Linked DNA regions of Homo sapiens: region 1 is linked to region 2. Evidence: fine-mapped expression QTL. A gene starts in region 2. The other region holds a variant in brackets. All regions are shown on one strand. Distances are from middle to middle. Region 1 has its middle 49 kb from the start of KDM7A-DT. Region 2 holds the start of KDM7A (lysine demethylase 7A).

The links. PIP is the estimated chance that this variant, and not a neighbour inherited with it, causes the effect. A credible set is the group of variants that fine-mapping cannot tell apart.
Region 1: its variant is the best candidate, but not a certain one, in a credible set for the expression of KDM7A in whole blood (TOPMed, PIP 0.64).

Annotation. Positions count from the first base shown.
Region 1 is chr7:140,223,530-140,228,900 of GRCh38, forward strand. No RefSeq gene overlaps it. Among named protein-coding and RNA genes, the nearest start is that of KDM7A-DT, 49 kb to the left of the region's middle. The variant G/C (reference allele first, on the strand shown) is at 2,226.
Region 2 is chr7:140,174,296-140,179,666 of GRCh38, forward strand. KDM7A (lysine demethylase 7A) reads right to left here and starts at 2,688. Exons shown (of 20, transcript NM_030647.2): 1 at 2,449-2,688. The coding sequence starts at 2,642. It overlaps KDM7A-DT (KDM7A divergent transcript), which reads left to right and starts at 2,966. Exons shown (of 1, transcript NR_024451.1): 1 at 2,966-5,345. RefSeq lists silencers at 1,417-1,696, 1,707-1,886, 2,527-2,626, 2,667-3,096 and an enhancer at 2,321-3,244.

The DNA.
Region 1 (5,371 bases), 49 kb after region 2:
CTGAAGGGAATATGCTCATACACCCAGTGTCCAGCAGTCTGGGGAGACGTGAGATCCCTTTGCACGGATACCCCATGTCACAACGATTCTGAGGCCCCTGATGAGCGCAGGCCCTCAGCCCCAGCCCTGCAGAAGTATTCCCTGGGTCTTTCAGGGAGTCCTCAAAAGGGTCCCCGACATCTGTTGAACCAATCAGTCCCAGTCATCATTGTATCCTTCCTCTGGCCTGTCTTCTGTGGCTTGAGGTCCACCAATACGAGCCTTGGGGCCACTACCTCTAAGACACAGTGCCCATGGGGCTGCCAGGCTCCAGGTCCGGGGCTCCGTTGGTGCTCTAGATCCCTACACCCTGCGTGACCCAGCAGTGCTGATTCTGTGCACGGATGGAGAAAATGCACCTTCCACCCTCAGCCACTCCGTTATCTCCTGCAAGCAACTTTCAGCAACAACTCCCACACCCTGCCAAAAAAACAACCACTGACAAAAACATCAGTTTCCACAGGAGTGAGCTCAGCCGTTCACACCTTCAGACAACATCTCCCCTGGACTCAGGACTGCCTCAGCCTGAATGCCTGATTAACACGCCCAAGCCAGAACTGTGAAGCCCCTCAGAGGGGAACAACAAGAGAGCACAGCTGCCTGTCCCGGAGGCCTTCATGAAACCAAAGGACTTCACCCCCACAGTGAACTGAAACATCCACCTCCAAACCCAGAAAACTGCTGGCCACTTTCAAAAGACACCTCCTCCTCCCTCTCAGGAGCTGGGCCACGCTGCAGCCTAAGGCACCTCTGTCCACGTTGGAGGAGGAGGCCAGAGGGACCACCTAGGGAAAAAAAAATAAAGCATTCAGAGTCAAAAAATACTGTTGATTGCAGTGTGGCAGAGGTGCTAGGGCAATGGGGGAACACATAGGTTCAGAGAAAATCAGACAAATGCAAAAAAGAAACTGCCATTAAGTCCAGAAGGAGAAAAGGGTTGTTTAATCACAGAGTGTTGTCCTAGAACACTACATGGCTCAGAGGTGAGCCATGCCCCCTCCTAACACTACATACCTCCTCCTAATAATGTGAACAGTTGTCATTTATTTCATAAAGTACTGGAATACAAGGATACAGAAGGGGGTATAGGAAGGAGAGCGTTTCCTCCGCTACCATGATTGGAAGTTAACAAGTAGTGTGCAAAGTCGAAAATCAAGAAACAGTAATGTGGCTGGACGTGGTGGCTCACACCTGTAATTCCAGCACACCTGTAATTCCAGCACTTTGGGAGGCTGAGGCAAGCAGATCACCTGAGGTCAGGAGTTCGAGACCAGCCTGGCCAACATGGTGGAACCCCATCTCTACTAAAAATACAAAAATTAGCTAAGTATAGTGGCGCACACTTGTGATCCCAGCTACTTGGGAGGCTGAGGCAGGAGAATTGCTTGAACCTGGGAGGCAGAGGCTGCAGTGAGCTGAGGTCACCCCACTGTACTCCAGTCTGGGCAACAGAGTGAGACTCCATCTCAAAAAAAAAAAAAAAAAAAAAGGAAAGAAAAGAAATAGTAATGTAAGCATATTGTTTAGAAAAATGGTGGAAAATACAAGAAAAATGGCTACAGAGTTGGCAGTGCCGGCCTTCAGGAAGACAGCCTTGGGGAACAAGAGGCTAAGCGCAATTGTAATTTTTCATTATACTTTTTATGTATTTATTCTACTTTGCTTTTTATAGCTATGTACATGTAGCATTCTGTTAGAGATAATTTTATATAAAACAAGTCCTGACCAGGCATGGTGGCTCACACCTGTAATCCCAACAATTTGGGAGACCAAGGTGGGCAGATAACTTGAGCCCAAGAGTTCAAGACCAGCCTGGACAACATAGTGAGACCTCATCTCTAAAAAAAATTTAAAAAATTAGCCAGGCAGGTGGTGTGTGTCTGCAGCCCCAGCTACTGAGAAACCTGGGAGGTAGAGGCAGCAATAAGTCATGATCACGCTGCTGCACTCCAGTCTTTGCAACAGAGTAAGACCCTGTCTCAAAAAAAGAAACCAAAAAAAAAAAAAAAAGAAAAGGAAAATGAAAGAAAACAGATTTTCTCAGCCTCTACAAAGGCAGGTTTCAAAAACCTCAGGGCTCTATCACAGCTAGAGCTGTCATCAGATACGTTGCCATGTGTATTACTTTGCTAGAGCAAAGTAACAAAGTACTACAGACTAGGCAGCTTAAACAACAGTAAAGCATT[G/C]TCTCACAGTTCTGGAGGCTGGACGGCCGAGATCCGGATGTCAGCAGGATGGGTTCCCTCTGAGGGCTGTGAGTGAGAATCTGTTCCAGGCATCTCCCTGAGCTGCTGGTGGTTGCCAGCAATCTATGGGGTTCCTTGGCTTGTAGAAGAAGCACCCTGATCTCTGCCTTCATCTTCACATGCCATTCTCCCTGTGTGCATATCTGTGCCCAAATTTCCTTCTTTAGTTTTTATTTTTATTTTTGAGATGGGGTCTCATTCTGTTACCCAGGCTGGGGTATAGTGGTGCAATCATAGCTCACTGTAGCCTTGACCTCCCTGGCTCAAGCAATCCTCCTACCTCAGCCTCCTGAGTTAAGCTGGGGCCACAGGCATATGACACTGCACCTGGCTAGTTTGTTAAAAATTTTGTATTCTCTGTAGAGATAGTGTCTCACTATGTTGCCCAGGCTGGTCTCAAACTCCTAGGCCCAATCGATCCTCCTACCCCAGCCTCCCAAAGTTCTAGGATTATAGGCAGGAGCCACTGCACCTGGCCTAATGGATCAGGGACCACCCTACTCCAGTATGAACTCATCTTAACTAATTACATGTGCAATGACCATATTTCCAAATAAGGTCACATTCTGAGGTACTGGGGGTAAGGACTTCAGCATATGAATGCGGGGGGCAGTAGCAGTAGGAGGAACACAATTTAGCCCAACAAACTGTTAAAACTGTGGAGTGTTATTGTCATATACTTTAAAACAAATTGGCCACCCTGCAGGTCCTGTGTCTTAACATGGCTGCCTTCCTATAATACTGACTGGTACACTTGCTCCCAGAGCTCCCAATTCAACTCTGCAACAGCCCCAACTCTCTTCATTTCTCCCTGAACACACACCCACTGAAAGGTACTCTTGCTCCCTCCCCTCAGCCCCCACATTAACACCTGTCACCCTGTGGTGCTGCTGTGCCTATGTCCTGATTCCTTTGCACAGATCCCTGCTCACTAATTGAGCCTTATCTCTTCTCCCTCTCCCATTGATCCAGCCAGTCCTTTCCTCCTTCTTCTTAGATCAGGGGTGTCCGATCTTTTGGCTTCCCTGGGCCATACTGGAAAAAGAAGAATTGTCTTGGACCACACATAAAATATATTAACAATAGCTGATGAACTAAAATAAATAAATAAAATCACACAAAAAAGTCTCATGACATTTAAAGAAAGTTAACAAATTTGTGTTGGGCCACATTCAAAGCTGTCCTGGGCCGCAGACAGCCCATGGGCTGGACAAGCTGGCCTTAGATAGATTGAGACCAGGAAGCCCCCAACTTCCCCCATAATAGAACTCGTAAACTGAATCTCAGCACAAAAGGATCATCCTCCAGTGGCTGAGTACACTAGAAGCTTGAGTCCTCTGCTCATGGGGCCACTTCCTAGTTGGGTAATGGACAACTTAACCTCCCTGTGGCTGTTTCCCTACCTGTAAAGTGGGACTAATAATAGTAACCCACATCATAGGCTTACATGACATAAAGCATGTGAATCTCCTAGCACAGTGCCTAGAACACAGTAGGTATTTAATAAATACCATTTGTTACTATTTTACTATTACCAGGTGTTACTTTTTATCTTCTTTCATTGAATCATGTCCAGAGCAAAGCAGGGCTGTGCTAGACCTCCAAACCGCCTTTGACTCAAAAGAGAGGCCCCCGCTGGGCTGGGCGTGGTGGCTCACACCTGTAATCCTAACTCTTTGGGAGGTCAAGTCGGAAGGATCCCTTGAGCCCAGGAGTTCAAGACCAGCCTGGGCAACACAGGAAGACCCTGTCTCTATTAAAAAAAAAAAAAAAAAAAGCTAGCCATGGTGGCTCACACCTGTAATCCCAGCACTTTGGGAGGCCGAGGTGGTGGATCACCTGAGGTCAGGAGTTCGAGACCAGCTTGGCCAACATGGTGAAACCCCATCTCTACTAAAAATACAAAAAAAATTAACCAGCATGGTGGCAGGTGCCTGTAATCCCAGCTACTTGGGAGGCTGAGGCAGCAGCATCGCTTGAACCCGGCAGGCAGACGTTGCAGTGGCCGAGATCACGCTATTCCACTCCAGCCTGGGTGACGGAGTGAGACTCTGTCTCAAAAAACAAAAGAAAGAGAGAGGACCCCATTGGGTCTGTGCCGTGCATCTCAGCTACCAATGCTTCCGCATCCTCCTGGTTCTGTCCTGCTAACAACCAACAGGACAGCTCAACCTGCCTGCTTTCCTCCTGGTCTCCCAGGGCACATCTGTCTCTGGAACGGCCCTCATCCCACTCTGCCTCACTCACACGATTCCTATTAGCCTCTTAACTCAGCGTGGTCTTCGGGAGCACACCCTTCAACCCAAAAGCAGCACTTTTAAAACACGTTTAAAAAGTGATTTAGTAAATAATGTTGATTTCTTTTGTGAAATTTTTAAAGACAAAGTCAAGTTACGTTACCCATGCCATAACAACGGAAGCAAAAACAGAAACCTATATTCCATTCCATTTTAAACTCAGGGACACCCAAGCACCCAGCTGAGGGCTCAGCAGCTTGTTTTTGCAATGTTCTACAGTGGGAAAGAAAGGAACAAAAAGCCTAGGAGTGGATCTCTAGAGAAAGACATTGTATATTTTGTCTGAAAGCATCTTACTCAGGAACTCCAGTTCCAACACCGTTTGGAGATGGTTCTAATCAGAGAAAAGCAAAACCCTAAAACATTTCTCAAACAGTTCTTCACGATCTGCTGCCTAAGACTCTTGTAGTACTTGCCACAGCAATATAGAGAACGTTTAAGCTTCTTATTTGTAATAAAAAGTGACAAGAGGCCAGGCGCGGTGGCTTACGCCTGCAATCTCAGCAATTTGGGAGGCCAAGATGTAGGGATCACCTGAGGTCAGGAGTTAGAGACCAGCCTGGCCAACACGGCGAAACCCTGTATCTACTAAAAAATACAAAAAAAAAAAAAAAAAAAAAAAAAAAAAGCCAGGCACAATGGCTCACGCCTGTAATCCCAGCACTTTGGGAGGCTGAGGTGGACGGATCACGAGGTCAGGAGTTCGAGACCAGCCTGACTAACATGGTGAAACCCCGTCTCTACTAAAAATATAAAAATTAGCCGGGCATGGTGGCGTGCGCCTGTAAT
Region 2 (5,371 bases):
AAAAAGACCCTGGGCTCAAAAAAACCTATTTTAGACTCACTTCCACAGATATAAAGTTACACAAATTTATGTGTCAAAGCAGAGAGGGCATATTTGTTTTGGCCTTGCTCTCCCTCCTTCCCGTAAGCCCTCTGTATTTCCTATTTCCCTATTTACAAGTGTATACTTACATGTATTACAAAATTCTCCATCAAATACCTGGGGCTTTTCATGGTTATAGTGTTAAGTGACCTAAATTAAGATAAATACAATTCTAGTCTAAAATTTGGTAGCCTATCAAATCCGCATTGCATAATGAGACAAGTTTCTTTTTTCTTTTTTTTTGAGACGGAGTCTCACTCTGTCGCCAGGCTGGAGTGCAGTGGCGCGATCTCGGCTCACTGCAACCTCCGCTTCCCGGGTTCAAAAGATTCTCCTGCCTCAGCCTCCCAAGTAGCTAGGGTTACAGACATGCACCACCACGCCCAGCTAATTTTTGTATTTTTAGTAGAGACGGGGTTTCACCATGTTGGGGTTTCACCATGTTAGCCAGGATGGTCTCGATCTCTTTACCTCGTGATCCACCCGCCTCAGCCTCCCAAAGTGCTGGGATTACAGGCGTGAGCCACCAAGCCTGGCGAGACAAATTTTTATGCAGTTTAAACCGCCTCAAATTTCAAAAAATAGTTCTTTGAAAAAAAATAAGCATTTACATAATCACCAGGGATTCTGATTTTATTCTATATAGAACCTAAATGTTCGGATAATCTTTATTCTAGTTGCGTAGAATATGTTATGGAAACAGGATGTGGAAATAGAATTGGATATACAAGACTGCTAAAGATTATACGAAACGAGGACGCTGCCTTTCTTTTAAAGTGATAATTTACTGTGTCTTGTTTTCTGTTGTGAGAATCGGCTAGCCTGAAAACTGATTAAGTAAAACTGTACTTGAAAATTAAGTAAAACTTAACTACACCTAGCACTAAACACTGCAAAGAACATTGTGATTTACATGGTTTTCTCTCCCTGGACCAGTAGAGGGAGACTAAGACATCTGGCCTGGTCTTGTAGTGTTTCTGTAAAATTGGGGAGGGGGGGAGCGGAGGCTGTATTTAAATGTCCTGCTGTCAATCAAAAGACACTTCCTACAATCACAGTCACCATATCTGCTATTACTCGTGAGCGTGCTCTCGCCAAGAGACAACACCAAACGGGGCCCGGGAAACCGGCTTCAACTAAAGGTGACCGCAGGCTTTGCCACAACACCCAAATAAGGACTTTGGGAGCCCAACCCCAACTAGTTTCTTTGTTTAAATGCCTGTGAATCCCTCCCACGCCGGAGTCAAGAGGCTGTGGCGCCGCCCTTTATTAGCCTCACACTTTGATTACAAAACACACGAGTCGGCGGCCTGGCTGCGGAGGCGGCCCGAGCTCTCAAACGTCAAACCCGGAGCGCGGCGGCGGCTGAATCAGAGGGCAGCGTCCGCCGCCGCCGCCAGCCGGCCCCGCAGCGTCCGCCCGGCCGACTCAAGTTCGCCGGCACCGGCGCCCGGGCACAGCCGCAGGCGGTCCCGGTGTCGCCAGCTTCGAGCGATGGCAACTGCACTCTTTGTAAAGTTTAAGCCGCGGCGCGAGGGCAACGCAGGGGGTCCGGAGAAGCGTTCCCTTCGGGCCGCCGCAACCCACTCCATCTGCCCCAGTCCCGGCGACCCGGGTGTGTGCGGGGGCCCAGGACCGCGACCCGGGTCAACCTGCCGCCCGCCGGGGGCCCGGCCCCAACTTCCCCGGCACCTTTCAAGTCCCCGAGAGCGAGTGCCTCATCTGTTGCTCTGTTTACTCCGCGGAGCCCCGCCGAGCTGGCTGGCGCGGTCGCCTCTCCGGCCCGCCGCTGCCCCCGTCCCACTGGCCCAGGAAGTTTGATAAAGACGGGGAAGGGGGCGCGACAGGGACCCGCGGCGCGGAGGAGACGCGGGGCCGGGGCGACCCCATCGCCGCCCGGAAGGAAGGCAGGCGCGTCGGCCGGCCGGGCAGAGCGGCGGGGCGGCCGGCGACTCCGGCCGGAGCCCCGGGCGCGGCGGGGCGGGGCGGGGCGGCGGCGGCCCGGGCTGGCGAGGGGCTGCGGACCCGGCCGGCGCTCCGCCCGACGCCCCCGCCGCGCCCGCCCGGCCGCGTCCCCTCGCCCCAGGCTCCCCCTGCCAACTTATCCGCCGGCCCTCTTTGTTCGTGTTTGTTGTGGCGACTCTTCGCCCGGGCCAGGCGAGCCCACCGGCTCCCCTCTGGAGCCCGCCCGGCGAACCCGGGGCACCGCGCGCCCCACTGCCCGGCCGGGGGGCTAGGCACCGGGGCCCCCTGAAAGCTGGGCGCGGCGCGGCGGCCCGGCCCGAGGGAGGCGCGGGCGGCCGGCGGCGGCGGCGGTTGGTCGGTGGCCGGCGGTGGCGGCTGCGGGGCTGGAGGGGGTTTATTTACCTGCCGTGGAACCAGTCCTTGCAGATATCGCACTCGATCATGAAGCGGTTCACGTCGTACGGCTGCCGGCACACACAGTACACGGGCGGGGGCGGCGGAGGCGCCGAGGCCCGGCCGGGAGCCGCCACCGACACGGCTGCCGCGGCGGCTCCAGCTGCTGCTCCCGCGGCCACCGCCGCCGCCGCTCCGGCCATCTTTAAAAAACACACACACGCTCGCTCGCTACTCCGCTCGCCGACTGGAGCGAGCGCAGCCGCCAGCCAGCGCCGCCTCCTGCAGCAGCCGCGGCGGCGGCGGCGCCTCAGTGCGCGCGCGCGAGGCCGCGGCGGCTGGCGGAGGGGGAGGAGGCGCGCGCGACGCGCGAGGCCCAGACTCGGCTGCTTCCGGCGCTCGGCGCGGGGCCGTGCGTCTCGCGCACGTCTCTGGCGCCGGCGCGCGCTCCCCGCTCCTCTCCGCGACGGCCGGGCGGAGGGAGCTGTTGAAGGGCACGCAGGCGGCTGCGGGGGCGGAGGGAGCTGAGGCCCCGTGAGGACACGCGCGGTGGTGGCGGTGGCGGCGGGCGCGCGGCCGCAGCCGGAGGAGGACGGCGGGAGCGTGCGAGGAGCTGGCTCGGTTATTTCGGAGCGAGAGCCGAGGCCGGGGGAAGTTCCTGCGGAGTGCTCAAGGGCAGAAGAGGTGCCGCGTCCCGAAGAGGGGAAGCGGAGAAGTTTGCTGCTGCCCGGGTCGCCTCGCGACGCTGAGAGAATCGCCCAGCCCTCCGCAGCCGCCCAGCGAGAACCGGAGCTGCGGCCCCGCACCGGCGTGAGTCCAGCTGAGCTGACACGCCGAGCCGGTTGTGCCTTTCCGAGGGAGGAATGTGCCGTGGAATCCAAACTTTGGAAAACGTCCCACCCGAATTCCCAGCGAGCAGCAAGGAGACCAGAGCGTCGATGGAGCCACCGTTAGTTGCGGGAGGGCTGTCCCCAAGAGGAATTCATCACTGTCGTCCGCTGGGAGGGACCAACCTTGAAATGGGGTTGGTGGAGAGAGGGATAGAGAAGAGCCGGCGTGCTTATAAATAACAAAACTTAGCTATGAACCCTTCCGATTCCCAAGTGGGGAAGATGGGGTAAAATTCTAAGTGACTTCTCGCTCCGAAGAGGGATACCACAAAAAGCGGAGCGCAGGGTACTTGGCGTATAATAAGCCATCAATAATTTATGGGTGAAATTGAGAGCCAAATATAAGATGATAAACTGAAGAATAAAAACAGCTGACAAATACTGTATAGAAAAGATTGCGTTGGAATCATAACTGTGGATTGGAAGTGATGTTAAGGATTATTGGATTGAGTATTTGTAGCTGAATTTCTGCTGGCATTTCTATCAGTGGGGAAAGCCCTCACAGCTCCATAGGTAATTTTTGTTAGGGGAGGAAGAAGTGTTGTTCTGTCACCCACCCCCAGGCAAAGAGTCGCTGATCTAATTCTCCATTTCTTTCTTTCTTTCCTTTCTTTCCTTCCTTCCTTCCTTCCTTCCTTCCTTCCTTCCTTCCTTCCTTCCCTCCCTCCCTTTCCTTTCCTTTCCTTTCCTTTCTTTCCTTTCTTTCTTTGAAACGGAGTTTCGTTCTTGTTGCCCGCGCTGGAGTGCAGTGCAGTGCTGTGATCTCGGCTCATTGCAACTTCCACCTCCCGGGTTCGAGGGATCCTCCTGCCTCAGCCTCCCAAGTAGCTGGGATTACAGGCGCACGCCACCGCACCCGGGTAATTTTGTATTTTTAATAGAGACGGGGTTTCACCATGTTGGCCAGGCTGTTTGAACTCCTGACCTCAAGTGATCCGCCCGCCTCGGCCTCTCAAAGTGCTGGGATTACAGGCGTGAGCCACCAAGTCCTGCCTAATCTCCTTTTTATAGTTGAGGAAAGCTAGTAACTTGACTGAAGTCTCATATATTAGAGCTGTAACTGAAGTTTTTAAGTGTCTCAATTCTGCAACTATTCGTTTTTCTATCACATCACTGTTTGGCATATATATAGCGGGAAAAGGAAAGGCTGGAAATTAGTTGACCACACACTGATTAAGCTTGAAACATATTTCTACTGGAGAAAAAAAGGTACTGTAATTTTGGCATAGGCATCACATATTGCTGGAGTGGAAAGACCCATGCACTCAGGTCCTGCTTTCTATAATCTGTGACCTCGGGCCAGTCACTCCATTTCTCCTGAACTAGATCACTGATGATCTGTTGAAAGAAAAAATATGGCTAGTAATGCCTTAATTATCTCACAGAGGTTTTACATGGAGCAAAAAGACAATGTATTTTTAAATGTACTTTGTTGAAGGTGTGTGTTGTCGAGACAATACAGCAGTGAAGAGAAGGCATGCAAAGCTGTCTTGTTGGAGTCTGGCTAAAGAGCACCAAAGCAGCCTGTTGTGGGATGTCCTCTGGGGGCCACCTGGACTTGCTATGTTAACATGGAGGGACTAGGCAGGGGTATGAAGAAGGAAGCCCAGCAGAGCAGGAGGCAGCAGCAACAATGAGAGATTGGTTATCCATATGACTTGGATCTGTGTCCCCACCCAAATCTCATGTTGAATTGTAATCCCCAATGTTGGAGGTGGGGACTGGTGGGAGGTGACTGGATCATGGGGGTGGATTTCTTATGAATGGTTTAGTACCATCCACTTTGTATTGTCCCCGTGGTAATGAGTGAGTTCTTAAGAAATCTGGTCATTGAAAAATATGTGGCACCTCCTCCCTCTCTCTTTTGCTCCTGCCCCGGCTATATGATGCAATTTGTCTTCAGCCATGATTGTAAGTTTCCCGAGGCCTCCCCAGAAGCTGAGCAGATGCCAGCATCATGCTTCCTGTACAGCCTGCCTTCCATGAGCCAATTAAACTTCTTTCCTTTACAAATTACACAGTCTCAGATATTTTTCTCTTTT